Regions from separate parts of the Homo sapiens genome. Here regions 1, 2, 4, 5, 6 and 7 are each linked to region 3. The links come from fine-mapping of genetic effects on plasma protein levels. Region 3 holds a variant in brackets. A gene starts in each other region. All regions are shown on their forward strands. Distances are between the middles of the regions. Region 1 holds the start of DYNLT1 (dynein light chain Tctex-type 1). Region 2 holds the start of HBEGF (heparin binding EGF like growth factor). Region 3 has its middle 15 kb from the start of ARHGEF3. Region 4 holds the start of BMP6 (bone morphogenetic protein 6). Region 5 holds the start of CALCOCO2 (calcium binding and coiled-coil domain 2). Region 6 holds the start of LBR (lamin B receptor). Region 7 holds the start of TOP2B (DNA topoisomerase II beta).

The links. PIP is the chance, under the fine-mapping model, that this variant and not a neighbour inherited with it causes the effect. The UK Biobank Pharma Proteomics Project read protein levels with antibody pairs (Olink). The fine-mapping took linkage between variants from a reference panel, not from the people measured, so its PIPs are less certain.
Region 1: DYNLT1 starts here. The variant in region 3 is fine-mapped to the plasma level of the DYNLT1 protein (UK Biobank, PIP above 0.99).
Region 2: it holds the start of HBEGF, and the variant in region 3 is fine-mapped to the plasma level of the HBEGF protein (UK Biobank, PIP above 0.99).
Region 4: BMP6 starts here. The variant in region 3 is fine-mapped to the plasma level of the BMP6 protein (UK Biobank, PIP above 0.99).
Region 5: CALCOCO2 starts here. The variant in region 3 is fine-mapped to the plasma level of the CALCOCO2 protein (UK Biobank, PIP above 0.99).
Region 6: LBR starts here. The variant in region 3 is fine-mapped to the plasma level of the LBR protein (UK Biobank, PIP above 0.99).
Region 7: TOP2B starts here. The variant in region 3 is fine-mapped to the plasma level of the TOP2B protein (UK Biobank, PIP above 0.99).

The regions. Positions count from the first base shown.
Region 1 is chr6:158,642,625-158,646,689 of GRCh38, forward strand. It overlaps DYNLT1 (dynein light chain Tctex-type 1), which reads right to left and starts at 2,119. Exons shown (of 5, transcript NM_006519.4): 1 at 2,058-2,119. The coding sequence starts at 2,084. It also overlaps a transcript of SYTL3 not described here. RefSeq lists an enhancer at 1,490-2,433 and silencers at 1,557-1,886, 2,047-2,276.
Region 2 is chr5:140,344,725-140,348,789 of GRCh38, forward strand. HBEGF (heparin binding EGF like growth factor) reads right to left here and starts at 1,879. Exons shown (of 6, transcript NM_001945.3): 1 at 1,559-1,879; 2 at 1,187-1,360. The coding sequence starts at 1,604. RefSeq lists silencers at 1,794-2,073, 2,114-2,163.
Region 3 is chr3:56,814,502-56,818,554 of GRCh38, forward strand. It overlaps a transcript of ARHGEF3 not described here. Among named protein-coding and RNA genes, the nearest start is that of ARHGEF3, 15 kb to the left of the region's middle. The variant T/C (reference allele first, on the strand shown) is at 1,220.
Region 4 is chr6:7,725,502-7,729,554 of GRCh38, forward strand. BMP6 (bone morphogenetic protein 6) reads left to right here and starts at 598. Exons shown (of 7, transcript NM_001718.6): 1 at 598-2,118. The coding sequence starts at 1,455.
Region 5 is chr17:48,828,711-48,832,764 of GRCh38, forward strand. CALCOCO2 (calcium binding and coiled-coil domain 2) reads left to right here and starts at 2,325. Exons shown (of 13, transcript NM_005831.5): 1 at 2,325-2,368. RefSeq lists an enhancer at 2,329-3,210 and a silencer at 2,581-2,740.
Region 6 is chr1:225,426,502-225,430,560 of GRCh38, forward strand. LBR (lamin B receptor) reads right to left here and starts at 1,537. Exons shown (of 14, transcript NM_002296.4): 1 at 1,453-1,537. RefSeq lists enhancers at 1-619, 620-1,291 and a silencer at 1,124-1,953.
Region 7 is chr3:25,661,182-25,665,245 of GRCh38, forward strand. It overlaps TOP2B (DNA topoisomerase II beta), which reads right to left and starts at 3,726. Exons shown (of 36, transcript NM_001330700.2): 1 at 3,048-3,726. The coding sequence starts at 3,116. MIR4442 (microRNA 4442) reads right to left here and starts at 3,758; the gene lies at 3,692-3,758. RefSeq lists enhancers at 2,376-2,505, 3,463-4,026 and silencers at 2,793-2,981, 2,936-3,295.

The DNA.
Region 1 (4,065 bases), not on the chromosome of region 3:
TCGGACTTGGAAACAAAACCAACTCACTGAGTGAAGAACAATTTGCAATATCTTAGAGATTAAGTCATTTCTGGAAGCTTAAAGGATCCTTCCAAGTGACTACCGTGACCTTAATCACAAAGGAAAGGCACTGTATCACCTCCCATATGGTTACAGTACGAAAAAGGTTGAGGGACATTTTAAAGAATTTTTAGTGGAAAGCAGAGTTGTATTGAATCCAGTGGATAGTTTTAACGTCTCCAAGAAAGATGAATGGTGAGTTGAGAGAATAGTTACAAAGGCCCAGGCATCTACACGAAGTTAGAAGAGATGCAGAAAAGGCTGCTAAGAGGCTGGTGGGAGGACCAGAACGGGCCATTCAGTAAATACCTAAGACATGCCTACTACAAGACAGCCATGGTCTCCACCTCCCAGGGCCTCCATCCCAGGTAGAACACTCATCACTCTGTCCAGCCCCTTCATTTTACACATATGCGATTGAGATCTCGAATAATGAAGCCACTTAGCCACCTTATTTGTGGGAGTCAGAATCGGACTGCAGTATTAAGCGCTTTCCTTTACAAAGCGATTTCTTTTTTAGAAGTTTTACTCGATATTACTGTAATACAAGACATTTTCCAATATTATATTAGTAACAGTTTAAGGGGAAAGGCTTTTTTCTTTGCCAACTGCTCCTGAACCAGCTCTTCTCGTCATTATTCACTTGGTTGCCATCAGCATTCAAACACTGATTATGCCACTGTCACAGGAAGTGTGTGCTAGTTAGGAAATCAGATCAAAACTGAAACTCTAGAATCAGTCCTTAAGTTTTAGTTTTATTTTCCCTGAAAACATTCCTCCTTAAACGAAATTTTTTTCTTTTTTTTTGGTTTTTGAGACGGAGTTTCGCTCTTGTTGCCCAGGCTGGAGTGCAATGGCGCGATCTTGGCTCACGGCAACCTCTGCCTCCCAGGTTCAAGGGATTCTCCTGCCTCGGCCTCCCGAATAGCTGGGATTACAGGCATGCGCCACCACGCCCGGCTAATTTTGTATTTTTAAAAGAGACGGGGTTTCTCCATGTTGGTCAGGCTGCTCTCGAACTCCTGACCTCAGGTGATCCGCCCGCCTAGGCCTCCCAAAGTGCTGGGATTACAGGCGTGAGCCACTGCGCCCAGCCACTAAATTTCATAAATGGTAAGATATCCAACCTTACCAAATGTATCTATAGTTTATATTTTTGACAGGCTGCATAATAAATCCATAGGGCTCTATCTGAATTTCAACAAGGATTATTCAGTAAGAAGAAAATGAGTGTTGTATCTCAGCTGCGCCCATCAGCTCTATTCCCCGAATGACCGTGAGCTTGAAGGAAAGCCATTTAACGCACACGGTGCCGATGGGTGTCTTCTGCTTGGCGACATCGTGGGCTTTATCCTACTTCCTCAAGGAGGCATAAAAGATGATTTTTTCCCCACAACAATGAGCTTTCTTACAGACATATTAAACGGAAATGAAATGTGCTACTCATTCCCAGCGTTGCAGAACCAGGTGAGGCCCGAGACAAAGGCGCGGGATGGCCGGGACGCCAGCCCGGGGCGGAGGGGCTGGCGGCGGGAGCGTCACCCGCACCTCCGCGGGGAGACGTCCAAGCCTCGGCGCTCCCAGCCCGGCCGCCGCGCCCCGCTCCAGGCTGGGGCTGGGGCTGGGGTCAGCCCCGCAGAGCAAGGGGCGGTGATGTCATCCTCTCGGCGAGCTTGGCTGCGGGCCGGAGGCGAGGCCCTGCGGGAAGGTTTCTCGGCACCGCTCACCGGGGCGCTCTCTCCGAGTCACGCCCGGTGCCTCCCCGCGCGGGAAGAAGCTCAATCCCCTTCCCGCCCCCCGCGCCGGGGAAACGGCGGCAATGTCCGGGCAGAATGGGGCCGGGCGGAGCGCCGGCGACCGGGAAGCTCAGGCCGTGGGCTGCCGAGACTGGCCTAGCTGAAGGAGGTGGGCAGCCAGGCCTTTCCGGGCAGGACCGCGTGTCCTTCCGCGGCCAGGGCTCTAGGCCTCCACCCTTCCGTCGCCGACCCGGCGGTTACCTCCTCCGCAGCCTGGTAGTCTTCCATCTTTCCTCCGGCGCGTCCCCTCCGGCTCCCTGAGTGGCGCGGACTGCGCAGGCGCACTCAGGCCCCGCCCCGGACCTGCCACGCCCCTCTCCTCTCGCGCCTGCCTCGCCCATGCCCAGCTCCCGGGCCCCGCCCTTCGCTGCCCGGACCCTCAGTGACCCCATCCCTGGGCGGGGCCCGTGGGTGGACCCTGAATTCGCCTCTCCTCCTGTCCTCTGGGAGGTGGTAGTTTCCATGGGAATCCGTGAGGGTAGCCGGGCAGCTCCCTAAACCTTAGCAACAGAAACAAAACACACGTACAAAAGGCAGTCCTGGAGGGGAAGCGTGGTCCCGGCCCCTCCTCCGGTTTGTACTGTGTGGATTGACGCGGACGTTCAAACCCGCTCGGACACCTGGCAACAAACTCGAAAGTGACTGCTGAAGGCAGTGCGCCCGGTGAGACGTTGTTGCAGTTCCCTTGGGGACTGGGATTGGCATGCTTTAGCTATCTGAACGAAACTTCCCTTTGGGGAGTTAAGTTTTCCAGGTAAATGAGAATTTTTCCTTTAAGCACCATTAAAAAAAAACATTTTGGGTGGAAAATTTTGTAAAATGTGGCACACTTCCTGACTACCTTAACCATAGTGAACTAGACAGACTTTATTTGTATGTGGGTTCTTTATGGAAATTAGGAATTGCACTGGGCTCTGGTAAACTGCCCTCCACGGAAAGCTGGGGCATATGCATCTATTGGCAGGTATTCTGAGGCTCCGAGTTTTGATTTTGGCGTTTGCTTTTTCTGGTTTCGTCATGCACTTGAATTCAGGTTGCTGGAACCCACTTCCCATTCCCCAAGAAAGAGCTGACTGCAAGGGTCCCAGGGATTTGGTAGACCTAAACTTCAAATCCCACATCTAATCCATCAACAACCCTTGTTATTTCTACCCCATATGCTCGGGACCCCAGTTAAAGATTGATATCTCTCATCTGGATTATGACCATCGGACTGTAACCTGGTCGGTCTATCAGGGTCTTATTAGAGCCCTTCAAGAGGAACCTAACCCAACGACTCCTCCCTCCCCTCACCCATTCTGCCCTGCCATAAGTCAATAGTTACTAAGTTGTCAGACTATAGACTAATCTTAGTGATCTTTGGATGACTAAACTTTTAACATATCTTAGCTCAAAATCTCCTACAGAGAGCCATTCTGTGACCACGGCATCTAAGGTAGCCGACCTCCTCATCCTCCACCCCTGCATCCTGTACATTTTCCTCATAGCACTTCTCTCAGTTTGCAAGAACGTATTTATGGTTGCTTGTTGATGGTGTGTCTCCATTTAGAAACTAAGTACCATGCAGGAAGGATCTGTTTTATTCACTAATGTATCCCCTTCCTTCCACATTGTGCCTGGCACATAATAGCTACACAATTAACATTTATTTATTTATTTATTTAGAGACAGGGTGTCATTCTGTTGCCCGGGCTGGAATGCAGTGGTGTGATCGGAGATTTTGAGCTAAGATGTGTTGAAGTTTAGTCATCCAAAGACCACTAAGAGCTTGAACTCCTGGGCTCAAGGTATTCTCCTGCCTTAGCCTCCTGAGCAGCTGGGATTCCAGGCACTAGCCACCACACCCACCTATTTTTTTAATATGTCTTTTGTAGAGATGGGATCTCACTGTGTTGCCCAGGCAGGTCTCAAACTCCCGGGCTTAAGGGATCCTCCAGCCTCAGCCTCCCAAAGTGCTGGGATTATAGCTGTGAGCCACCATGCCCGGCCTAAAATTTATTGCATGAATCATTTCCCTCATGGGTGTTAGCTTTGCCTCAGACCCAAATGGAGAGAACTGGGGAGTGGAGGAAGATGCAACTACCTGCCTCCTTGAGGGAAACAGGGCTGGCGAGAGGAGGGCAGAGCCCTGACTGACACAAGGCTGCTTGGCCCTGGGTGTTCGGCCTGAGCGAGGAGACTTGCTGGGCAGGCTGGTTGCTTTACCACA
Region 2 (4,065 bases), not on the chromosome of region 3:
GGAGAGCAAGGCAGGGGGGCCAAGCCAATCAGAAAGGGGAGGGAGAAGGTGCAGGGTGACAGCCAGGCTCCTGCCATGGACAGGGAGCAGTGAGTCAGGTCTGCAGAGGTAAGAGGAGCAGCCGTGTGGGTGGGGGGTGGGGGTGGGGTGAGTCACAGCCCAGCCCTGCCCAGCCTAGGAGGAGAGGGCCAGGAGAATCCAGGCTGTTCAGGTCATGGGCAACCCCAGAGGGCCACTGGGAGAGGATGAAGTATGGGAGCCCAGGCTCAGTTTTGGAGTATGTGCTTGATTTATACAAAGTAGAGAGAGTATCCAAGGAAAGCTCCTGGGAATGAGGGAGAAGGGCAGCTGAGGAGCAGGTGGAACTAGAACAGGTGGGCATCTGTCCAACCAAATATAGTCATTCCAGGGTACAGTGCTGAGTCCTTGCTCTACTCTGGATAATCTCCTCAGGTTTGGAGGCAGGAGAGCTGGCAGGCTCTGGACTCTGCCCTGTACCTGTACTTGGCCACAGCCAAAGAGGCTGGTTGGAGGATCCTACACAGCCCTCCCCATTTGGAGTCTCCTCAGGAATGCAAGGTGCTCAGTAAGCTGCAGGTTTCCGGTAGCATTCACAGATATCCAGCATTTTAATACAGCCCCCTAGGGGCTCAGTGCTCACCATTCACAGCCTCATCTAGGGCGGCCAAGAGCTCCTCATTCCCCTCTGTTTCCCCAATCTGGAGACAGGTGGATGGAGGAGGCCAACACTGCACACTTTCTAGAGATGTGCCTGGGCATCTCCGCATGTGTTACCTCTATTTTATATATAATAGTCATTTGATATGGGAATTAGAACTGGCGCCCATTTTTACATAGTAGCTCTAGGGAAAGCATCTCAACCATTCCTTGTTCCTATCACCCAGCTTACCTAAGAAGAACGTAACAACCCCAGACAACACGTCTGATTCAATTTGCCCCGGAGTACCCAGAAGGGCAGCAACCCAGCAGGTGAGGCAATGACAAGAGAGAGAGAGTGGGACCTATATTCCAGGATCCCCCAGTGCCCATCAGGCCGATCAGCTTTTCCCCGAGGTTCTCCATGAATACCCTCAACCCACAGTATTGCCCAAACAGCAAGAATCTTGGATCTGCTTATTCTTCAACAGCCCACCAAGGTCCAAGGATGGGGGGCCTCCACACCCACCTCTCAAAAGGTCCAGATCTGCCTCTTGCAAGTCACGGACTTTCCGGTCCCGGCCGCCTCCTAGGGGTAGCAGCTGGTCCGTGGATACAGTGGGAGGGTCCGGGTTGCTGGTTCCAGCAGCTAGCCCTCTCCGAAGCCGCTCCAGGCTCTCGCCAGTCACCAGTGCCGAGAGAACTGCGGGCGAGAGGCCAGGCCGCATCAGACACCCGCCCAGACCCCTGACCAACACGCACCGATGCCGACGCCCGTCCGCCAGAGCGCAAGGGCCCCACCAAGTGGCCCGTGCCGGGTGCGCTGCGGCGACCTTCCCCCATGCCCCCAGCACAACGCCCCCATCCCCCCGATCTCCGGGGGCGTCGGCAGCCCTCTTACCTGCAGCCAGAAAGAGCTTCAGCACCACCGACGGCAGCAGCTTCATGGTCCCGCACCGAGAGGAGGCGGCGAGGCACCAGTCACTTTCGAAGCGGCGGCCACTGGGCGCTGGCACCAGAGCTGGGCGGCGGAGCTCAGGAGATTCCGCCGGGCACCGTCTGCCGCCCGCCTCTGCGTGCAAGCCTGGCCGGGACCCAGGCGCAGCTCGCTCTTCTTGAGTGTCTTGTCTTGCTCACTCAGCCCGCCCGCGCGGCCGCCCGACCCCGCGCGCCTAGGTCAGGCCAGCCAGCAGCGTGGCCCGCGTAGCTCCTTCGGCCGAATGAGCGCTGCCCGGCTCGCGGCCGGGAATAAGGCTCCAGGAGGCGCGGAAGCTCCGCCCCGCCCGGCGCCGCCCCCTCCCTCCTCCCGTGCTGGGAAGCTCGCCCGGCTCGCGGCGCCGGCAGCGCAGCCCCCGACCCCGCGGGCGCGGCGGAGGACTGGGCGGGAGGAGAGGGCGGCGTTCACAATTTTTGGGACCAGGCCGAGGCAGCCGCGGCCTGATTGTGGGTAGGGCTACTGACCGGCAGGTGGCGGAGAGCGGTTCCTACCTTTCCCCAAACGCCTGTCACTCTGCAGCCTTGTGACTGACTGCTGAGCTGAGTTCTGTTCCGGGCCTGGCCTCTTGCTTCATCTAAGCCCCATACCAGGGGTCTCCATCCCTGTCACCCTCTAAGTTTCAGAAGCCCACCTTTTGGCCTACCAACACGGCAAGTATCAAATAATAATTAATTCATCTATCATTTAAAAATTAGACACGTGAATGCCAGCCGTTCTCATAAACCCGAGATAACCAGAGTTGAAGTTGCAGGCACTTAGTATCAATCCAGCAAAAGCAAAGGAAGTTAGTACTCTCTTAGTCTCTGGAGTGGCTTCCTCCCATCTTCCCTCAGGGGACATTAGGATTTTTGAACTATGGGTTGTAATTCCCAGGCTTCTGAGATTGGAGAGACACAGGTTGTGAAACAAGCCTTATTCTTTTCCTTGCCTTTGACTGCCACCTTTTTCCTCAACATAAAAAATGAGCCACCCTCCCATAGGACCCAGCTGGCTAACCTAGATTGCTGTTTCACAGACACTAGGTGTTTCTCTTCCAACCCATGTGCTTTTGCAGGGGTCTTCTGGAGTCACTGTCCTGACCCAAAGAAATGAGTGTCTCAGTAGGTATTTCAGTTTCCAGGGACGTGCTGGGGAGAGAGTTGTTTGACACAGGGCTGGGTTGGCTTTCAGAGCCCTGAAATTGTGCCAGATAGAGCACTTGCCGGATTCTGCCTGTGTGTAGGGATAAAAACAGGCCTGCTATTTATACACAGTCTATCCCACTGTCCCTCCCTATCCCCACCTTTGCAGGGGTCAGTCTGGCCCTGCCCTCTTAACTTGCTCCAGTAACCTAGGCCTAGGTTTCCATAGTGCACTGGAATCACTACAGACCTGAGTTTGAATCCTGCCTTTGCTACTTACTGTGTGACCTTGGACAAGAAACTTAATTTCACTGAGCCTCAGTTTTGACGTCTCTCAAATGGAAAAAATAATAACAATAATAATAATGACTACTTTGTAGGGAGCTTTTTGAGAAATGAATGCGGGAACACATAAAAGTAGTTAGTATAGTGCCAGGCACACTATAAGCTCTCAATAAATGTGACCCATTATTATTGTTGCTGTTAATAATAATCACTAAGCACTTGACCACTCTATTTCCTTAGAGGCCTCTTTTCTCTCACTTCTCTAGATCGCTTGCCTTCCCCTAGGCCATATCTGAGGCTTTATGATATAGTTGGGCTGGTTTCAGACAGAAGCTCACCTGTCACCTATTTGGCTAAGAGCCACTGTTAGATTATCCTTTTGGGTGATGAGTATCGGGCCTAGGACCTCAGTGCATGGTCACCGCCCAAGCCATGACTTTGCCCTCCCTCAGCAGCTGCCTGGCCACCTGCTTCCCCAAAACAAAGCCACCTTGGGGTCAAGGCTCTCCCCAGGGGAGGGTGGAGAGAAACACTTCCTGACACATGGTCAAATCACCCCCTTTCCCCCACCCTCGCCAGAGTCACACCCTGCTCTCTTGCCCCAGCCTGCCTTTCTCCCTTCACATGCTCTGTCCTTCCGCCTTCTCACCCCCACATCAGCCTCAGTCCCATTCATGGGGCAACTCCAAACTTTCATCACACCTGGAGCCTCACCCCAGCTAGGTTTGTGTGTCAGCCAGGTTTTACAGGAAGGGCCTGAAAAAAGAAGATAAAAAGCTTGAATTGGATTTGGGACAGTCACTTCCCCTCTCAGAATCTTGGATGTCTCTGAGCAAAGAAAAGGAATCACAATTCATGCTGAGGCAATCTCATTAACTCAATTATATCATAAACATTAACTGAACATTTTTGGGGGGCACTGGGGACATAGAAATAAATAAGACAGCCCAGGACCTGCTTTCACAGAGCTTATATTCTATAGTAGACAGGCAGCACATTAAGGAA
Region 3 (4,053 bases):
CAGTTTAAGCATCTATAAAATGGGGATATGAGAGTTTCAAGGTTTTAATGAGTTAAAAACACATGAATAATCCAATAAGATAATATGTATGTCAGATTTCTAAGCATACAGTTAGCACGTCATGCTATTATTAACCCTTCCGGTAAATAAATCATCCTTCTCCCTTTTTTTTTAAATGAATTAAGGAAAAAAGGTGGAATTTGGAGAACTTTTCCAACACTCCTTGCTTCCAAAGACATTAATTCTTTGATTTAATCTTATAATTTCAAAAAAGGATATGACTGTTGCACATATATAAAAGAAGCAGCAGAGTGAAGAGTGAACTGACCTAAATTAGAAGACATGGGCCAGGTGCAGTGGCTTACACCTATAATCCCAACACTTTGGGAGGCCAAGGTGGGAGGATCACTAGAGCCCAGGAGTCTGAGACTAGCCTGGGCCACAAAGTAAGACCTCATCTCTACAATAATAATAACAATTATTATTATAACAATTAGCCAGGCACAGTGGCATATGCCTATGGTGACAGCTACTCAGGAGGCTGAGGCAGGGTGATTGCTTGAGCCTAAGAGTTTGAGGCTGCAGTGAGCTATGATCGTGCCACTGCATTCCAGCTTGGGCAACAGAGCGAGACCCCACCTCTAAAAAAATTAAAAAAAAAAAAAAAAGAAGACATGGTATACAATCTGGCCCTACCATTAAGTCTGTGGTCTTGGGCAAGTCAAGTGATCTCTCTGAGACATAGATTCTTGAACCATATAACAAGGTGATTTAAACATAAATGTGTATGCTTCTGTGATTCTATTAAACAGCAAAGACTGAAGTGTATATGGAGTATTATCTTGATTTTATGCTATTTAATTTCAGGAAAGCTTTCAAATAAAAATTCATATCTTATGTACTGATGAAAGCACCCTGTCTAAAATTAGCATGTTTGGTATAGGCAGCCCACATTTTGGGTTGGTTCAGCATGGTAATATTTTATGAAGGCTCATCAGAAAATTAAGCTCAATGTACTCATTTGTCAAGAAATGCATATGCATATAGATTCTTTTAATATCAAATGGCAAAGCAAACAAGAGGTTGAAACAGAGGAAAGATCAACTATGAGAAAAGAATTACTGAGGGAAAATGGAGACAGACTACAAATGGGATAGAACTGGCCTAAAATATACCACTGTCACTTAAAAATAGGTACTCGGTTACATAGTGCCTGTGT[T/C]ATCTTTACAACAGCATTTGGTTCCTACACTGTCTTCTTCCTACAGGCCTGTTATGACTATGAGAGCTATCTGTTCCTTCAGTGGACCAAGTCTTGCTGCCTTGTGGATTCTGCCCAGTCACAGCTTCCCTTCTGCCCTTCAAGGGTGGGCTGCTTGCATCTAAGTGGTAGGGCCATACCTAATTCTGTTCTGGATATAACACAGATGACTGACTGGGCTTGGTGGCTGATGTCTATAATCCCAGTACTTTGGGAAGCTGAGGCAAGAGGATCACTTGAGGCCAGAAACTCAAGACCAGGCTGACCAACATAGTGAGATCCTGTCTGTACACAAAATGTAAAAATTTAGGAGGGCATGATGGTGCATTCCTATAGTCCTAACTACTTTAGAAGCTGAGGCAAGAGGATGGCTTGAGCCCAGGAGTTGGAGGTTACAGTGAGCTATGATTGTACCACTACACTCCAGCCTGAGTGACAGAGCAAGACTCTGTCTCTAAAAAACAAAACAAAAATACACATCTAGATGGTTGCTGGCATGAGATGCTAAACCACAGGCTTCTCAAAGCTGAGGGTTCTGTGCAACCCTGGCCAAACTTCTTACCCAAAATACTTACTTACATTAATGTTGTCCATTTATAAGAATTAGAACTAAAAACAAAGATACCTTGCAGCAACTTCTAAATAGTGCCCCATAAATAACAAATAGCACTAGAATTACTTAATAAATCATAATCTTCATTATTCTCTAGCATCTGTTTCCCCTACTAGATTGTACGCTCCAAAAGAATCATGAATCGCTTGTACAAGGCTACATCCCCATTGCCAAAAGATGCCTGGCAAGTGATGAGAGCTCAGTAAATGATGCTGAGAGCCGAAGAGGTGTTTGCTCTCTGCCAGGCACTGTGCTTTGACTTTAATGAAGTATCTCAAGTAATCCTTACAACAATCCTATGAAATGAGTACTTCTATAGTAGGAGAAACTGAGGCACAGAGAGTTCAAGCAACTTGCCCAAAGTCACACAGCTAGTAAGCAGCAGAGCTGGAGTTCAAATGCAAGCACCTTGCTTCTAGAACCTCAAGTTCCAATTCTGAAGCGGAACGTTAATTCACAGGCCAGTCACAAACCAGGGAGTCCTGAGGCCAGAGCCTATGATGCAAGGGTCAAGGATTTGAGCCTATATGATATGACTGAAAGAACACTGAATGAGAAGCAGTGCTGACTTGGGTCCAGTCCTGTGACGTTTTTGCTCACCAGCTTCCCCTGCTGATCAATCAGGGGGTTGGATGCTCACTCAAGTCCTTGTCAGGTGTCAACCCCAAGTGCTAGAGTCACCCTAGACATAATCTCACATCCAGAAAACTACAGAGCACAGTGTGCTCTTCCACCTTCCACGAGGGAGAACCACCAAAATATCAACCATCAAGCAAGTTACTCAGTCTCTCAGAACTTCAGTTTCCTCATCTGCAATCAGGACCAAATAGCACCTACTTCAAAGGGTGGAGGTGAAGATTAGAGAGAAACCTGGTTAAGGGGCTACCACATAGTAATAATTTCATAAACAGTAGCTAGGTTTATTATGGTCCCAAACAGAGCGAGGAGATAAGTCTGGAGGAGGAACGAATCTCTTCAAAACCCAGGAACCAACCAACCAGTTGGAAAGACAGCTCTGAAACTCAGATTTTTAAACAATTTCTAACAGTAGACTACATGTGTGGCACATCATCCAAGCAAAAAGTTCCATATCAGATTCTCTTTCAACAAATGGAGTAATAAAGACAGGTTTGAGTTAACTTCAGCTGGAACAGAAAGAACCATTATGACTTGGGAAGTTCACACCTGAGTGCTGAAAAGCTAGAAAATAATGTTAGGTGCCATTTGCCTTATGCCAGACCTGTGACAAGCATGTGACATATATTACCTTACTGAATCCTCACAACCTGCTGAAGAGGGTACTGCCCTGTTGTATAAATGAGGGCATGGAGGCTCAGAGAAGATAAGTAACTTGCTCAAGATCACACAGCTACTAAATAGCCATGCCAGAACTTACTTAGTCTGCCAGAACGTTGATGGTCTTAACCACAAAGCTACACCCTTCCCCAAAGATAGCGTGTCATTGGCCCCAGCATGCCCCGTACCCACAGGGCAATCATGTCCACACCATGGGCAAGTGGCTTTATAGGAAGGCCACGCATGGGGGATCAAGTGGCCTTGGGTTTTGGTCCCTGTTTACCCACAGACTGTGGCAGCTATGGACAAGTCATTTAACTTTCCTGGACCCTGTTTTGATCAAACAGAATGTACTGGATTAAAGTTTTTCAGTCCAAGTCTTGTGGAACATTAATCACTTACATTTTATACCCGAGAGGTTAGGGATAAAAGAGGAGCCAAAGACATAATGAGCTAACCCTCTGTCCTGGGACTCTGGCTAGGGGAAGAAGTGGAACACATTTGTTACCAAACAGAACTGGGTGACCCTCAGTTCCCTTCTATCTTGAAAATTCTGAAACTCTACTGAAAATTCTGAAATTCTCCTGAAAATTCTGAATTTTATGTGACAGGAGAGGACAAAGAAGAAAAGGACTTCAGGGAGTCATGTGGGAGGTGGCAGGGTGGCCATCTCAAAGCTATGTTTGCACAGCGACTACAGTGTACATGCTTAGCTGGTAAGCTTATTTGAGGTGCTTCTGGAGTGAGGGGGCTGGTGGAGATAATGGGAAAGGAAGCTAAATTCCTCCTCTTGAAATGACTAGTATTGCATACAGCAAGCACTCTATAGATGCTGATAGAACTGAATTCAAAGGAAAAAAGACCTGGATCAAACTGATAGAAGTTG
Region 4 (4,053 bases), not on the chromosome of region 3:
CAAAGCACAAATGAACAGAGAAGTCAACACATCCGACCCCAAACCCTCAGGACGCTGGCTTGGGTTACATGTGGCCCTCTCTGTGGTCAGTTTGTGAGTAGCCTCCCCGGAGGGTGTGTCCCAACTTCCAGCAGCTGCCGTGGAAAGCCACGTGTCCGCTAAACGCCTACATTACATCAATAAGAGAAACTAAGGAAGGGATGGAAAAGCTATCATTTTTCTTTTCTTCCTCAGTTCTGGCAGTATAGTGATTTAATCGCTGTTATTATTTTTATTTAGTTAAAGCATCAACTTAGGCCTTTTAAATGATGGTAAAAGAGAAAGCTTCAGATCGGGGTATTGGTCAGATCATTCTTACTAGCGATGACCTCTTCGCCTTTGGCACCTCGCGGCTCTTCGCATGCCTCCAAGAATTCCCGGGTCTTGAAACCTACGCGCGGCGGAGGCGACGCCTCTCGGGAGAGGGAGGGTGAAAGAAGGGGCGGGGCTATTTAAATAGCCCGCGAGCTTCGCGTCCCCATTGGCTGCCAGCCTGTCGGTTACCGCGGGGCGGGGAGTCCCGGGGCTGGAGTGAGGTACCTGAGCCGGGCGCGCAGCAGAAAGCCCACGTTGGCCGCTGCGGGGAGCGCGGCGTGGAGAGGCGGGAGACCGAATTCCGGCGCCGCCGCCGCGGCCGCTGCTCGGTGCACTAGCCCCCTTCCTTCCCATCCTTTCTGCGAGCGGGTTTGCTGGGCAGCCGGGCGACCGCCGAACGGAAAGCAAGATCCTCGCCGCCTCCGCTTGAGGAGGCGTGCGGCGCGCGGAGATTTTGAGTGGGAGCGACGGTGCCCGAGAGCTCAGGGGCGCGGAGTTCGTGAGCGAGAAGGAAGTTAAACCTCGCGGAATAGACTGGCATTTCGGGACGCCTTGTCGCCGCAGCCTGGGCCCTGCAACGGGGTAAACTTCATGGTGGCCCTGCGATCTGGGGAGGGGCGTGCGCCACGGTGATGCCGGGCATCTCCCGCAGCTCGTGAGCGGCCCCGCTCCCCGCTGCCCCGGGTCCCACTCAGTCGCCAGGGAGAGCGCGGGGCAGCGCACGTGTGCGGCCAGCGAGGCCCAGAGTGACCGCGCCGCGACTCGCAGGAGCCAGGGCGCAGGCTGCAGTGCAGCCCGGACTCAGACGCACCTGGCCTGGACCGCGCGCCTCTAGAGACCTGCGCGAGGCTGTGAGGCTCCCCTTCCTCCCCTCCAAGCGGTTCTCCTGGTGATCGCCCCTTCGCCACCTCTCTAGCCTGGGCAACTGGGGGCGCCCCGGACGACCATGAGAGATAAGGACTGAGGGCCAGGAAGGGGAAGCGAGCCCGCCGAGAGGTGGCGGGGACTGCTCACGCCAAGGGCCACAGCGGCCGCGCTCCGGCCTCGCTCCGCCGCTCCACGCCTCGCGGGATCCGCGGGGGCAGCCCGGCCGGGCGGGGATGCCGGGGCTGGGGCGGAGGGCGCAGTGGCTGTGCTGGTGGTGGGGGCTGCTGTGCAGCTGCTGCGGGCCCCCGCCGCTGCGGCCGCCCTTGCCCGCTGCCGCGGCCGCCGCCGCCGGGGGGCAGCTGCTGGGGGACGGCGGGAGCCCCGGCCGCACGGAGCAGCCGCCGCCGTCGCCGCAGTCCTCCTCGGGCTTCCTGTACCGGCGGCTCAAGACGCAGGAGAAGCGGGAGATGCAGAAGGAGATCTTGTCGGTGCTGGGGCTCCCGCACCGGCCCCGGCCCCTGCACGGCCTCCAACAGCCGCAGCCCCCGGCGCTCCGGCAGCAGGAGGAGCAGCAGCAGCAGCAGCAGCTGCCTCGCGGAGAGCCCCCTCCCGGGCGACTGAAGTCCGCGCCCCTCTTCATGCTGGATCTGTACAACGCCCTGTCCGCCGACAACGACGAGGACGGGGCGTCGGAGGGGGAGAGGCAGCAGTCCTGGCCCCACGAAGCAGCCAGCTCGTCCCAGCGTCGGCAGCCGCCCCCGGGCGCCGCGCACCCGCTCAACCGCAAGAGCCTTCTGGCCCCCGGATCTGGCAGCGGCGGCGCGTCCCCACTGACCAGCGCGCAGGACAGCGCCTTCCTCAACGACGCGGACATGGTCATGAGCTTTGTGAACCTGGGTAAGGATTTGGGGTAACGTAATGACGAGAACATTTCCCCCTTTTCAGTGTCCCGGGCCCAGGGGATGGAGTGAGGGGGTGGAGGAGCTCCCGGCGCGCGGGTCCCGCCTGGTGCGCCAGAGAACGCGGGGACAGGCAGGCTGTGCTCCCGCCACCTGCGCGGCGGTGGGCGGCACATGCGCTCCCCCGCGCCGCGGGCAGGGCTGCGCGCCGAGGCCCCCAGAGGCGGCTGGCCGGCCGGGCCGCGGGGCTCCGGGAGCGCTGTCCCCAGCGGGCGTGTATTTGCGGACTCCCTGAGCACGTTCCGCGCTTTTTTTCACTTCTGCCCAGCTCTGGCCAGGTTAACTCAACTGCAGCAGGAGAGTCCAGCCCGAGTGTGGCCATCCTGGGAAGAGGGCTCTTCAGTACGATTTTCCCCTCTAAACTGCCGCCTTTTGCCCCCTAACTTGGAGTGCAGTTTTCCCACCGAGACTTTTAGGGAATCCGACAGCGGCTGGGAACTTTGAAAACTTGGCATGAGTATGTTTAGAGGTATCCACGGCACTAGGGGAGGTTGCAGAGGGAAGTCCCAAAAGGACCGCGGAAGGCGCTCGGATCCCGGCCGGGCGGGGCTCGCTTCTGTTTGGGGCGGGATGAAAGCTCAACTGGGGTAATCCATCCTGTGCCCCGGCTCACATGCCCTTGGCCATTGTCCCCAAAGGCTGAACCTTTGATCAATGCAGCCCAAGCTGCACGGGCAGAGAAAGGGTGCGGGGTAGGGGCCGGGGTTGGGCGCTGAGCTCCTCTGAACCGGTTGCCAGGCAACAGAATGGAAATTCACGGGCGGCTAAATGGAGCTCCGCCACAAATGTTCTGTGGCAAACCCGGACCCAGTCACATCGCCCTTTCTCCCCCCTCCCACCCCACTGAGTTTTCTCATCTGTAAATGAGAAGGGTGCAGAGAAGACTCTTTTCTTCGGAGTCAGTGCCTCCGGTTTGCACTGCTTTTCATTCATAAGCTGACTTAGTTTAGCGCAGACATAGGATGGAGGGACGCGCTGTCAGCGGACAGATCATGGGTGCACTGGCTACGCCCGGGATGGTTGCAGCTGCGCGGCGGGGTGGGGCTTCACGGGCCTCCTTCCCATGTGAGACGGTGGTTGTGCCCAGGCCCTGAAGTGGGTGAGCAGACACTCGCCAAAGGAGCACACGGGTCTCCCAGCCACGTCAAAGACGCTCATCTTTTAACGGCATTACTTACTGGAATGATTCCCGCGTAGACTATCTGGGTGATTTCTTTACCAGCCTATCTATGATTCCCAACTCCACTGAGCTTTGAGGGAGAGAACATGGGGGGTAAGAGCCAAGGGAGGGTGTGGAGGCAGGGCGATTGGCATCCAAGTGGTGCAGAAATCCTCCTGGGAAATTCGTGAAACAGAATCTCACAGGAGTCCAGGCTCAGGGCCTGCCAATCTGGCTGCTTGCACTGCCCGGGGTTCTGATTGGACAAGAATTTTCACAATTTATTGGAACCAAATCCAAGGTTGAGCCACCTCCAGGAAGCATTCTAAGGAAATTCTCATGCCAGTCAATAAAATTTGTAGTGGGTGGGGGCCAGGGTGGCAGAGGACCAGCGCTGTTCCTTATTCTAACTTTTCTGCTGCTTCTGACTTAGTAAATTCCTCCCCTTGCTCTCTTCCTCTCCTCTCCTTCCACCCTCACCCCCCGCCCCCACCCCGCCTCCAGGTTTCCTGGCAGCTCTGGGGAAATGTTTTATTGCCTCTTGGGGGTAGTCCTAACCTGGACAAAGGGGAGGAAGACTGGCGCTCCTGGCTACTTCACAGAGAATCGTGTTACAGTCCCTGGGAAAACAATTCCTGGGCTTGAACCGAGGTTCTCAGCATTAGCTGCCCTGTAGTATCACCCGGGGGACTTAGAGTTCTAGGGTTATTAGGG
Region 5 (4,054 bases), not on the chromosome of region 3:
GACCTCATGATCCGCCCGCCTCGGCCTCCCAAAGTGCTGGGATTACAGGCGTGAGCCGCCATGCCCGGCCAGCCTTCATTTTTAATTTACTGAAATAGTTATCATGTTAATGTAGACAATAAGCTGTGTGGGTGCAGATGGTTTTCATTCTCAGTGCTTTTAGAAAATCTAATAAGTAAAATTAAGGGAAATGTATCCAGGATACTGAGGGCACTTGTCCCTGCAGACCGAGTTTAAAATGGAAGATATTATTTTGGTAACTCAGAAGGTGATTTGAACTTTAGACGGATGACCCACTTCCTGGCTTACTCATCATTTCCCACCATCCGTTCATCTCAGTTGAATGCCACCAGTCTTGTGAGGAAGCAGATTAGGAATGCTCATTCCCGCTGGGTGTGGTGGCTCATGCCTGTAATCCCAGCACTTTGGAAGGCTGAGGCTGGTGGATCACAAGGTCAGGAATTCAAGACCAGCCTGGCCAATATGGTGAAACCCCGTCTTTACTGAAAATACAAAAATTAGCCGGGCGTGGTGGCGGGCGCCTGTAGTCCCAGCTACTCAGGAGGCTGAGGCAGGAGAATCATTTGAACCCGGGAGGTGGAGGTTGCAGTGAGCCCAGATCATGCCACTGCACTCCAGCCTAGGCGACAGGGCAAGACTCTGTCTCGACAAAAAAAAAAAAAAAAAAAGGAATGCTCATTCCCCTGCCTGAGATGGCACAGAAAAATTTCTTTCCACATTTAAACAGTGGAAGAAGGGGCACTTCCAAATTTAATCTTTCATAGACAGCATATACAGCATTTAACATCTTCTGGATGTTAAAGAAAAAAATATTCTGAAACTTGTTAAAATGGCAAGGAAGAATTTATTCAGGACCAAAGGGGAGATTATGCTGCACTCTGAATACAATAATGACAAGTGGGATTTATAGCCAACAAGCAGAGTGAGGGGTCACTGCATGGAAAATTACTAAAAGGAGATTCTTGTTAAACCAACTTAACAGGACTCTTGTTGAAGGCAGGCCAGGGTTATTAGATATTAAGGATGGGGGATTTTCTTTAAATTGACTTAGCAGAATTCTTTTCTTACTGAGTTTATTCTTTTTTTTTTTTTTTTTTTTTTTTTTTGAGACAGGGTCTCGCTCTGTCTCCCAGACTGGAGTGCAGTGGTGTGATCATGGCTTATGGCAGCCTCCACCTCCCAGGCTCAAGTGATCCTACCACCTCAGCCTCCTGAGTAGCTGGGACTACAGGGGCCCACCGCCACACCCGGCTAATTTTTTTATTTTTTGTGGAGACAGGGTCTCCCTATCTTGTCCAGGATGATCTGAAATTTCTGGGCTCAAGAGATCTCCCACCTCGGCCACCCAAAATGTTGGGATTACAGGCGTGAGCTACTGTGCCTGGCCATGAGTTTATTCTCTTTTTTCTTTTTGAGACGGAGTTCAAGGCCAGCCTGGCCAACATGGTGAAACCCCGTCTCTACTAAAAATACAAAAAAATGAGCCGGGCATGGTGGCGGGTGCCTGTAATCCCAGCTACTGGGGAGGCTGAGGCACGAGAATAGCTTGAACTCAGGAGGCAGAGGTTGCACTGAGCCGAGATCGCCCCGCTGCACACCAGCCTGGGCAACAGAGTGAGACCTTGTCTCAAAAAAAATAAAGACTCTTCGTGAAGTAGTGTTAAGTGGACCCAGGAGAAAAATGAAGATGACCTCTTAATGGCCCTTCAAATGTATAAAGCTTTCTCATTCAGGGAAGAAAGACATAAAGATGTAGCCCAGGCGCGATGACTCAGGTCTGTAATCCCAACACTTTGGGAGGCCGAGGCAGCTGGACCTCTTGAGCCCAGGAGTTCAAGACCAGCCTAGGCAACATGGCAAAACCCCATCTCTACTAAAAATACAAAAATTAGCCTGGCGTGGTGGCGGGCGCCGTATGGGCACCGTGGTTGTCCCAGCTACTCAGGAGGCTGAAGTGGGAGGATCACCTGAGCCCGGGAGGTCGGGGCTGCAGTAAGCCGTGTTCGCACCATGGCACTCTAGCCTGGACGACAGAAAAAGAAAAAAGAAATAAAGGTATAAAAGAAAAAAAAGAAAAGTAAACAGCTTCTTCCAGGGGATGAAGTAGGTTTATTTCGGTGAGATTGCTGCTCAGGACTTAGGAGAGCCATCAAAGGCAGAAGACCGCTCCTGGGGCCCGGTCACCTGAACACTACAAGTCCCAGCAAGCGCCGCGCGGGGGCGGGGCTTGCTGACCGTTGTGACGTGTGGGCGGGGCAGGCGGGACGGGCTCTCCCTTGGGTGCTTAGCCCCGCCCCCGTCCCACTCTGCCCTGTTGCTGTCGCGCCGCTGCTGGTTGCTGTCCCTGGTGAGTGCCTCAAGTGGAAAGGGGCAGTTAGGCCCTCGGGGTGCCCACATTCAGACTTGCAGTCCTGAGAAGGGGCCACGGGGGTAGAGGTGTGGCAAGTTTCGGTTCTCACCGCAGTTCACCCTCTGGGGTGATAGTGGGAGTGGTGTTCTGAAGGCCCTGGAGCCCCTCCCGCGGCCCGGGAGGGTTGCGGGGCAGTTTTGTCTTGCGGAGGGCAGCGCTGCAGTGCTGTGTGGCAGGGTGGGAGGCTCCTCGGGAAGAAGTGACACCCCTGGCGGCGGCGAGGGTCTTGAGGCGGCGGCTGCCGCCCCACGGGTCGTGGCGTCCCGTCCCCTCCCGCGGGCCCAGGCTGTGGTGGTTCCGTAATCCCTCGCCTGGATGTCATCGCCGTTGGCTTCGAGGCGGAGGTGGAGCCTTGTTGCGTCACCCTGAGCAAGTTACTTTCTTTTTGGGCCTCAGTGTCCCCCTTTACGAGTAGGTTTGATCCCTGAAGCGCCTTGCCTTTTGCATGCTGCAGCTGTCGGAGAAGACGTTCTAGGCAGGAGGAAAGACGGTGTCGTGACCTGCCTCTACAGTTAATCCATTGCCCCTCCACCACTGACCCAGCTTAGTTTGGGAGCTAATGTTCCCACTCGTATATTATTTCAACCCCACTGGACGTGTTAACTCTTTTCTATCACTTGGATTCTTGCTTCACATGCAAGCCAACAAGTGACCATGGTTGGAGCTGAGTAAAATATGGATAATATAACTTATTCTATTATTGGAAACACCATTGCAAGTAAAGGACTTTATGTGGTAGGTCTTTGTAGCTTGTGGAGAATACATGATTAAGGAATATCCAGATGGCTCAGTTTCCCAGGTATTTTCAAGGGACCTGGAAACTCTATCCTTTGGCAGACATGACAGCTGTGGAATGGAAAGGGCCTTGAAAAAGGTAGTCGATAATCCTGAGTTACCTGGCACTAACAGGTCATATTGTCTTTCGAGTCAGATAGTACATCTGTGGCTCTTTAAAAATTTAATTTGGCTGACTAGGCGCGGTGGCTCACGCCTGTAATCTCAGCACTTTGGGAGGCCCAGGCGGGCAGAATCACCTGAGGTCAGGAGTTCAAGACCAGCTTGGCAAACATAGCAAAACGCTGTCTTTACTAAAAATACAAAAATTAGTGGAGCGTGGTGGCGGGCGCCTGTAATCCCAGCTACTTGGGAGGCTGAGGCAGGAGAATCGCTTGGACCCAGACAGCGGAGGGTGCGGTGAGCCGAGATGGCGCCACTGCACTCCAGCCTGGGCAACAGAGTGAGACTCCGTCTCAAAAAACAAACAAACAAAAATTTAATTTGGCAGTATGTATTGATAGAATGTCATGTATCCTTAATTATTTTTAGATGAAAAGAGAGTTAAATGAACTCTTTCACTTCTTTTTTCCTTCACTTAGGATCATCATTATATCAGGCAAGGTCCTTGAAGATTTTCTAGCCTTAGCCATGCATTTTGCTGATGAGGAAACAGGCCAGAAAAGGGTACTGTGACTTGGCCAAGCTCTCAGAGTGGCAGAACTAAGATAGGAACCCAGCTCCCTTGGCTGTTAGCCTAGTCCCCTTTCCACCACACTTCAAACACTGTCACTGCCCATGTCACAGGGACATGGCATGTTAGAATCACCCCTGTCAAGGGAAAAGTGG
Region 6 (4,059 bases), not on the chromosome of region 3:
CAGATGCCCGCTAACTTCAGAGTCAACTGGCACTGCAATCCTCACACATTCCAGCTCCGGTATGTTACTGTTTGTGAACACAACAATTCTCTGCTCATTAACATTACAGGGGTCTCCAGCCATCTTTCCTTCACTTCTCCAAATTCATCTAAACGTGGCATAGAGCAAGACGCTCGAATGACGTTGGACAGCTTCCTTTTCACACCTGAGCCCCGGTAGCCCCACTAGGCAAAATGCAAACAGGAACCCCGGGCCTTGCTCCGCGCCCTTTGCTTCATGAAGCAACAGAAAGGCCACCTTCCTGGCTGTAAAGGCAGAAGCGCCTTCTTCCCCATAAACATCCTTGGGCAGCTCATCATTCCCCTCCTGCTCGTTCTTCTCCCTCTTCCCAGGCAGCCTGAGAAACAAAACTTAAACTGGACTTGTTGCCTAATCTAAATTAGGATCCCTCTGCTCTTCTCCGTAGCTCCATCTTCTCCCACACACCAGTTACTACAATGCGTAACTACAGATCTACACGTGTTTACGTGCAAGGTCCCCGGGGGCCTGTTCACCCTGGCACTGCCCAGGCGCCGCGCCTCGCGCTGCAGGTGTCCACGCGCGGACCACGGTATCTACCGCGCCCTCGTGTGAACACCCGACCGGGCCCCGTAATCACTCTGGGAAAGCGCCTTCAACAAAGCCCTCCGAAAGCAAGTGCTTTACTAAGTGCCCCTTGAGGCTACTGGCAGTGCGAGGCTGGCTGTCATTAGAACATTTTTCTGAACCCTCAAAAAGGTGAAAAAGCAGGACCGTGCTTTAGCAGGAACACGCACACCCGCCTAAATACCCGATTTTTGAGACTGTCCGGGCGAAGGAATTCAACGCATAGGAGCGAGCAGCCATGCAGTGTGCCTGGAGAATCACCAAACCGCGACGACCACGACCCTCAAAGCCAGTGACAAGCAGCGCGAATCTAAGCCCACCTCGGCCGCAGACCCTTCCCCGTCCCGCCAGGCCGCCGCGCCCTGTCAGCCTCCTACTGCAGGACCGCGGGGCCGCCTGCTCATCTGTCAGACGGGCGCTCGGAGGGGCCGGGAGCCAGGCTGCGGTGGGGCAGGACAAAGGCGCCCACGAACCCTCCCTGCCGCCGCCGCTCCACAGCCGCGCCGCGCCGCCAACATGGAGGGAAACGTCCGCAGTTTAAAACCCCCAGCTCCATTTCCGCAGCGGGCCCGGCTCGGGCGAGCTCCAGCCTCGCCCGCCGCCGCCCCGACCACCCGACTGGGCCAGAAAAGGCGAGGAGGGGAGGAGACGAGGAGGCGAGGAGAGGAGGGGAAGGCCGCCGCGCCAGGCCCCGCGCCCAGGGTCCCCGGCCCGGCCGCTGCGCCGGCCTCGGGCTTCCTCCCCCAGCGGCCCCTCGAAGAACGCGCCGCGGGGAGCTGGGAGCAGGGCGGGGGTGGAAGCACTCACCTGCGCCAGGTTCCGGCGGTGACACGGACGGCTCCCGGAGAATAGTCGCACAGCAACCCGGCGGCAGATCCACGCGCGCGACGCTACCCGGCCGCGCTCTCGCGCCCCGCAGTCCCGCAAGCCGGGCGCGCGCCTCCCCGGCCCCGCCTCGCGGCGCTTCTCCCCTCCCCTCGCCTCCCCTCCCCACCGGCGAGGCCGCCCGGGGCTCCCATTGGCTCCTCGACCTTTTGAATCATCCCCGGCGCTGTCGATTGGTCGCGCGCCGTGGCGCGTCCGCCCCGCCCCACCCTGCCTGGGGGCGGGGAGGCCGGTGAGCGGGGGAAACCGAGTCTGGCGGGGCGGCCCGGAGCGCGACGTTTGCCACCGCCTTATCTCAGCCGCCCAGGCGCCCTCGCAGCACACGGAGCCCGCGCGCTCCCGCCCTTTCCCTCCCAGCGCTCGCAGCAGTGTTTGGGGTGCCAGGTGGCTTGGCGAACGAGATTTTTTTTTAAGCTACAAAGAAAACTAATACATTCTTGAAGTGATCACCAAAGATCCGAGCTCGAAAGCGTTTCTCGGTAAAACACTATGAGTGCCCTCCTTAGCGTGTTAAAATCCCACAGAAGCCCCTGGACCAAGCAGCGGCATCGAAGGCGAGCAGGGGCGCTTTTGTGTCCGCGGCCGCTGAACCTGCGTAGAAGCGAACCCGGACCGATGCTGGGACCGGCGGCGGGAGGGAGGGGGAAGAATGGCCGAGGGCTCCTACGACTTACGCTGCGAGGAGGGGCTCGGTTGTTACCCGAGATGCTGTCGAGATGCAGTAGAAAATCCCCAACACCGCGGAGCGTGGAACAAGAAGTTTTATGCGTTACACACCGAAACACAACTTGACCTGCAACCTACAAGCCTGGTTTTAATTGAACCCCAAAATGCTGAGTCATGTCATTGTTGACTCCGAATCTGTTACGGATCCTAAGCTTTTTTTTTTCTGCTAGTTTTCATTATCGGTTAGTTGATTTCCTTCCTTTGAGGTCGAGAGTTTAAAGCAGTCCATTGAAGTTCCCTATTTTGCAGTGTGGTTTTAATCAAAGTATTTCTTAACACCCTAACTAGGTATATTTAAGTGAATTGCTATTTTGGAAGCATTATTAAATTGTAATAATGAATAGAACTTTTCATCTATAGCCTAGCTTCAGCTTTCATTTTCTCATAGAACTACAAAACACCCAGGTTTACTTCTTAAAAAAAAAAAAGTGAAAATACATCGAGTTTTCTCAGTCATTCACATGCAGTGTGAATGAGTTCATCAGAGCCTTTCCTGAGAAGTTCTGACATCAAATTGTCATTGCCATCGAATTTGCCCTTGGTGGAGATCTGTGCAACAGAAATGCACATCGCACTCCAAAGTCAGAAAATCTTTTATTTTTGACAAACCCCCAAGTCTCAATTGTCTTAACCCTTGACATAAGATAATATTAGTCCTACCTCATAGAGTTTTGCAGTAAATTACACAGAAATAAAAGCGCTTATGGGGACCTAAGACAGATCCTATCCCAAATAGCCAAGCAGTGAGTGCTACACTATTCTTTTCTCATATGTTCTACCCAGAATCAAGATTTCACTGGATTTCCCTTGAGGTGCACATTTCCTGGATGATTTCCACTTGTGAAATAGAAGAAGATTCGTTTCAAAAAAAAAAAAAAAAACACCTGGCCAGGCGCCGTGGCTCACGCCTATAATCCCAGCACTTTGGGAAGCCGAGGCGGTTGGATCACCTGAGCAGGAGTTCGAGACCAACTTGGCCAACATGGTGAAACCCCATCTCTACTAAAAAAATACAAAAATTAGCTGGGCACGGTGGCGAGCACCTGTAGTCCCAGCTACTCGGGAGGCTGAAGCAGAAGAATCGCTTGAACCTGGGAGGTGAAGGTTGCAATGAGCTGAGATCATGCCACTGCCACTCAGCCTGGGCAAGAAGAGCGAAACTCTGTCTCAAAAAATAAATAAAATAAATTTTTAAAAATTTTAAGAACCTTATTTTAAAGATCAGGTTTATAAAGTCTCATCATAACAAAATGAAGCCAAAACTTTGTAAATTAACTAGAGTTAGCTTAGCTAACATTTTACCTAATAAATTACTAATGACATTTTTAAAACAAAACTGATTTGACATCAGGAAAACTAAGCAATAATTTTTGTTCATTTCTACTTCGTGGACTCAAACATACCATGAACAATCAGATCTATATGTAGGCTGCTTTCTCAACAAAGGAACTGTTTGGTATTTTTCTCTTCTTTTTTAAGTCTACTAAAGGCTGTGTAAACTTGGAAGTGGGGAATTTTCAGAAAGTTCTCAGAAAGATGCTTGTCACTCACAACTAGCAAGTTGTGGGTTTTCAGAATCTATAAAGTAAAAGTCACTTAAAAGTCCGCATCTTGGCACCATTGTTGTTAATGAGGCCATGAGTGGCAAAGCCCCTTTCCCCATTCACATAACAAAAGCAAAGCAAAACCCTTCAGTCCTGCCACTAAAGCCAACCAAAACACACATGCGGCCAGGAAGCTTTCATATATAAAATACAGGAACCCCCAGCGGAATGCATTCCAATGTGGCAGTTATTTGGCTCT
Region 7 (4,064 bases), 31 Mb before region 3:
AGAGATGGGGTTTCTCCATGTTGGTCAGGCTGGTCATGAACTCCTGACCTCAGGTGATCCGCCTGCCTTGGCCTCCCAAAGTTCTGGGATTACAGGCGTGAGCCACCGCACCCGGCAGGTTGATAATTATTGAAGCTTAAGGCTAAATAGAGGGAAGCTTGTTATACTACTCTGGTTACCACTTTTTGAGATGCTTAACATTTTCCATTAAAAATTTTTTTTAATCTACCAAGTTAGAATATTGTTGGGAAAAAGATTAAGTCATATAACTGTATTCTAGTATTTCCACAAATGTCTTTGTTACAATCACTTATGATACAAGACTGACAGAATGAACCAGACTATTACTATCTACTAATCAAAGCTCTACAAAGAATTAATTCAAGAAACCCTGCTGCCTTAAGAGAAGCCTTTGTAACTGCTATACATTTTAAATCAAAATAGCTTTGCCATGTTTATATTTTTCACTTTTTTTAATTATAAAAAATTCTGGTTGAGATACTCCTACAAATCAAACACAAACCAAATGAATTATTAAAATAAGTTAATGCCAGTCCTAAAACCACTTGGCTTTGTAGTTTCAGATATTGAAAGGCAAATTTTCATGCAATGACATTAACAACACATGCTGGCATGCATCCCAACAGTAGTTAATATCAGCAACACATGGCATACAACTCCTCACCCAGAAGAAAGAAATCAGGGGCTAATTCTATTTTTATTTCTTTCTGTTACCACAAGCAGGTGGCAACATAACACTAGCTTCAATAAAGCAGACGAAGTTACCTTTCTCAAAACAGATGACCACTGCAATAAAGCCCCAACTCGTGCAAAGGAAAAATTAATTTGCTTTTACCCCAGCTAAAAGATATTTTATGTAAAAGCAACTGCAATCTATTATTTGAGTGTGCATTTCTTGAAGTTCACCAATAATAACAAACATCATTAAGCCCAGCACTGTGCTACACACGTTATCTCATTTCATTCTCAATGCAACCTTATTTGACAGATAAAAAAACAGGCTTAGAAAGGTTAGGTTCCTTGGGAAAAGTCCAACTAAATGTGTTGGAGAGACAGTATCTGAACCTACATCAGCCTGACGTCAAAGCCCATAACTACCTCACTATATTGCCTCCCATAAAATCAAACCAGTCTATATGATCAATGATGTATATTATGGACATAAAGATGCTCATATAACCTTAGAGTAAGCATCAACTCTTAAAGAAGACTTACAGGAGTGATTATCTTTTTAATAAACTTCTAATTCCATAAGATATACTCTATAAATAAAACACTAAGTGATCTTCACTTCTCTTTATTTTACTGCATTTCCCATATTTTCCATAATCTGCTTTATAATGAAAATTCCTTTAATCAATAAGTCAATTTCAGTTTCAAATGGATTTTTCTATCTTGAATGAGATGCTCCAAGTTTTGCTAAATTAGCAATGAGTTTCCTATGGAGCTTGAAAGAAATAAATTGTCATTTAATTATCTACAAAATTATATAACAGTTAATTAAAGTACTGCTATCAAATGTTAAAGCCAACAATCCACTACGGAGCAAAATGTTTACCATTATAGAACCAGAGGTCTTCAGAGGAAACACCGATCAGGCCTCAACACTTCCAAATAGTGAATGAGAACTTACAATACCATTTGGCTGTCTAAGTCAATTTTCCGATGTCTGATTTTAGTGACAGGGGTAAAAGCCATTAATTCTGAAAGTCATTATTTTGCATGTATGTGTCCATCTCCTCCTTCTTCCTCTCACATACCCTCTACTGCAAGTCCACATGGACCACTAACTTAGTATCTGACATTTTCTCTCCTGGCCCTAGTCCCTTCATACTTTCATTCTACATAATCGGAGTAATATACAACATTCAAAGAATTTCAACAATAAGAGCATGGCAAGTTATTTTGCAATGTACCCTGGCACGCAAACATAAGTGATTAAAATGTTTTGCTGCTGTCAGTAGCACCCTTTTTATAAGAAGCAGTTGTCAATATAGCACAAATTGCTATTCAACTCACCCAAACCTCACCCAAACAAAGAGAAAACGAACTAAGTAACAAAAATGCCTATATGAAAGCTCCCTTGAGGTATTTAAAACAGGGACGGGGGAACAGACCGTCAAAAGTCCAGAAAAATGTAACACTTTTTACTTTTCTCCGAAATACCTAGGTTTTCTGTATAGGAAATGACCCTGGTCTGAACTCTACGCTGAGCAAGTGAAATGCCGGCGAATTATCGATCTGTCGTGGGAATCCAGTCTCCCTTCCTCCTTCCGCTGCAGTTACTTCTACTTCCCAGCAAGAACTGAGCGTCGAAATCCTTTAACTTCAGGACTAAGCACTTCAGTCACCTCTCCAGGACATCCATTCAGCCCTCACCCCGTTACACCTGCGATGCTGACGTAGACAAGCACTTCTTTTAATAATCTCACCCTGACAGAGGGACGACCTACAGTATTAACTGCTGTGAAAGTCATCCCCAATGCGCTCTCAATTGAGCGCATTGAATGAGGCTTTCCAAATTGAAGTGCAAGTTGCTGTAGAAATCCCAATGCATTCTTCTTTGAGATTAAAGCCCCAGAAAGAGCTGCATTTAGAATACACACACACACACACCCCTTTTCCCAGGGTTTTCTTGAACTACATTTGGAGAAAATGCTGCCCCACACAGACACACTTGCATTATCGCCATCCCCACCATTTCAGGTTCGGCTGCCCCGGAAGAGTCTGGTTAAAAAGAAAAGAGAGGAAGCGGGGGCTGTATGTTACGTTCGCGGTTTTGTCCCCCCAAAGTTTCAAGTACACATTACGCTCTGGCAGTCAGGACTTCCAGAGACGTACAGAGAAAGAAAGAAAGAAAAGGCGCGGGGAGCGGGCTGGAGGATTCTGCAAGCACAGGCCCCTATGGAGCGCCCGTTCGGGGGACGGGATTTCCCTCCCTTTCCCCTCCCCCGCCCGTTCGGAATTCCGCCCCCGCCGCGGGCCCGGAACAATGCAGCCGCCCGTCCCGGGGACCAGCCACTTACCACCCAGGTCAGTGCCCCGTTGCCGCCGCCCACGCCGGCTCCCGCGCCGCAGCCACCCGACTTGGCCATGGCGAGTGCCTCCAGCTCACAGGCCCTGAGGCCGCAGCCGCCGCTCCCGCCTCCCTGCGGGCCGCTGGGCCCCGCCGCTCCGCACCCACCGCTCCACTCGCCGCACTCCTAGCCGCGCCGACCCCCGCGCCCCATCGCGAAGATCCGGAGCGGACGTCCAGCCGAGCCCGCTGAGGAGGCCGCGCCGCCGGCTGCCCTCAAACTCGAGGCGCGGCGTCCGCGTCGCCCGGGCCTAGCGCGGCGGCTGAGGAGAAAGCAGGGAGCGACCGGCGGCGGCCGAGCGGCGGCGTTGCCTTCTCGCCCGCCCGCGGGCGCCGCTGCAGGCCGGGCTGAAGCCCGGGCGTGCGAGCCGCGAGGGCGGCCGGGGAGCCCGAGGCGCTCGGACGTGGCGAGGACGCAGAGGTGCCTTGTCCTTCTCACACTCCGCGAAGGCCAGCCACTCGAGTCGCCAGAGTAGTCGTCCCGGTCGCCGCCGCTGCTTCAAAGGCAGCCTTAGCCTCGCTGCAGCCCCGATTTCCTCACACACACACACCGAGAGGGACAATAAACAGAGCCGCCGCCGCCGCCGCCACGGTCACCTCCCTCTTGTCCGGCATAACACCGCACACACACATTTGCACACCGGGGAGAGAGGGAGGGCGCGGCGGCCGCCCCCGCTGTCAGTCAGCGCCATGCTGTCCAATCCGGGCCTTGTCGCCACAGCCTCTCGGCCAATCCCAAAATTCCAAGCCCCCTGGAGGGGCGGGACCCGAGGGGGGAAACGTCATTGCGGGTAGCAACCGAAAGGAAGACTTGGGGTTTTTGTTTGTGTGTGTGTCTGTGGGTTTTCCATTTGAAGGGAGAGCAGGGGCTGCTTCAAGGGTCAATTGAGGGCGGCAAAGGGAAAGGGTCGAATTGGCCTCGGGTCGATTGTAATCCTCCAAGCGTGCTGTTTACTCTGAGACCTAA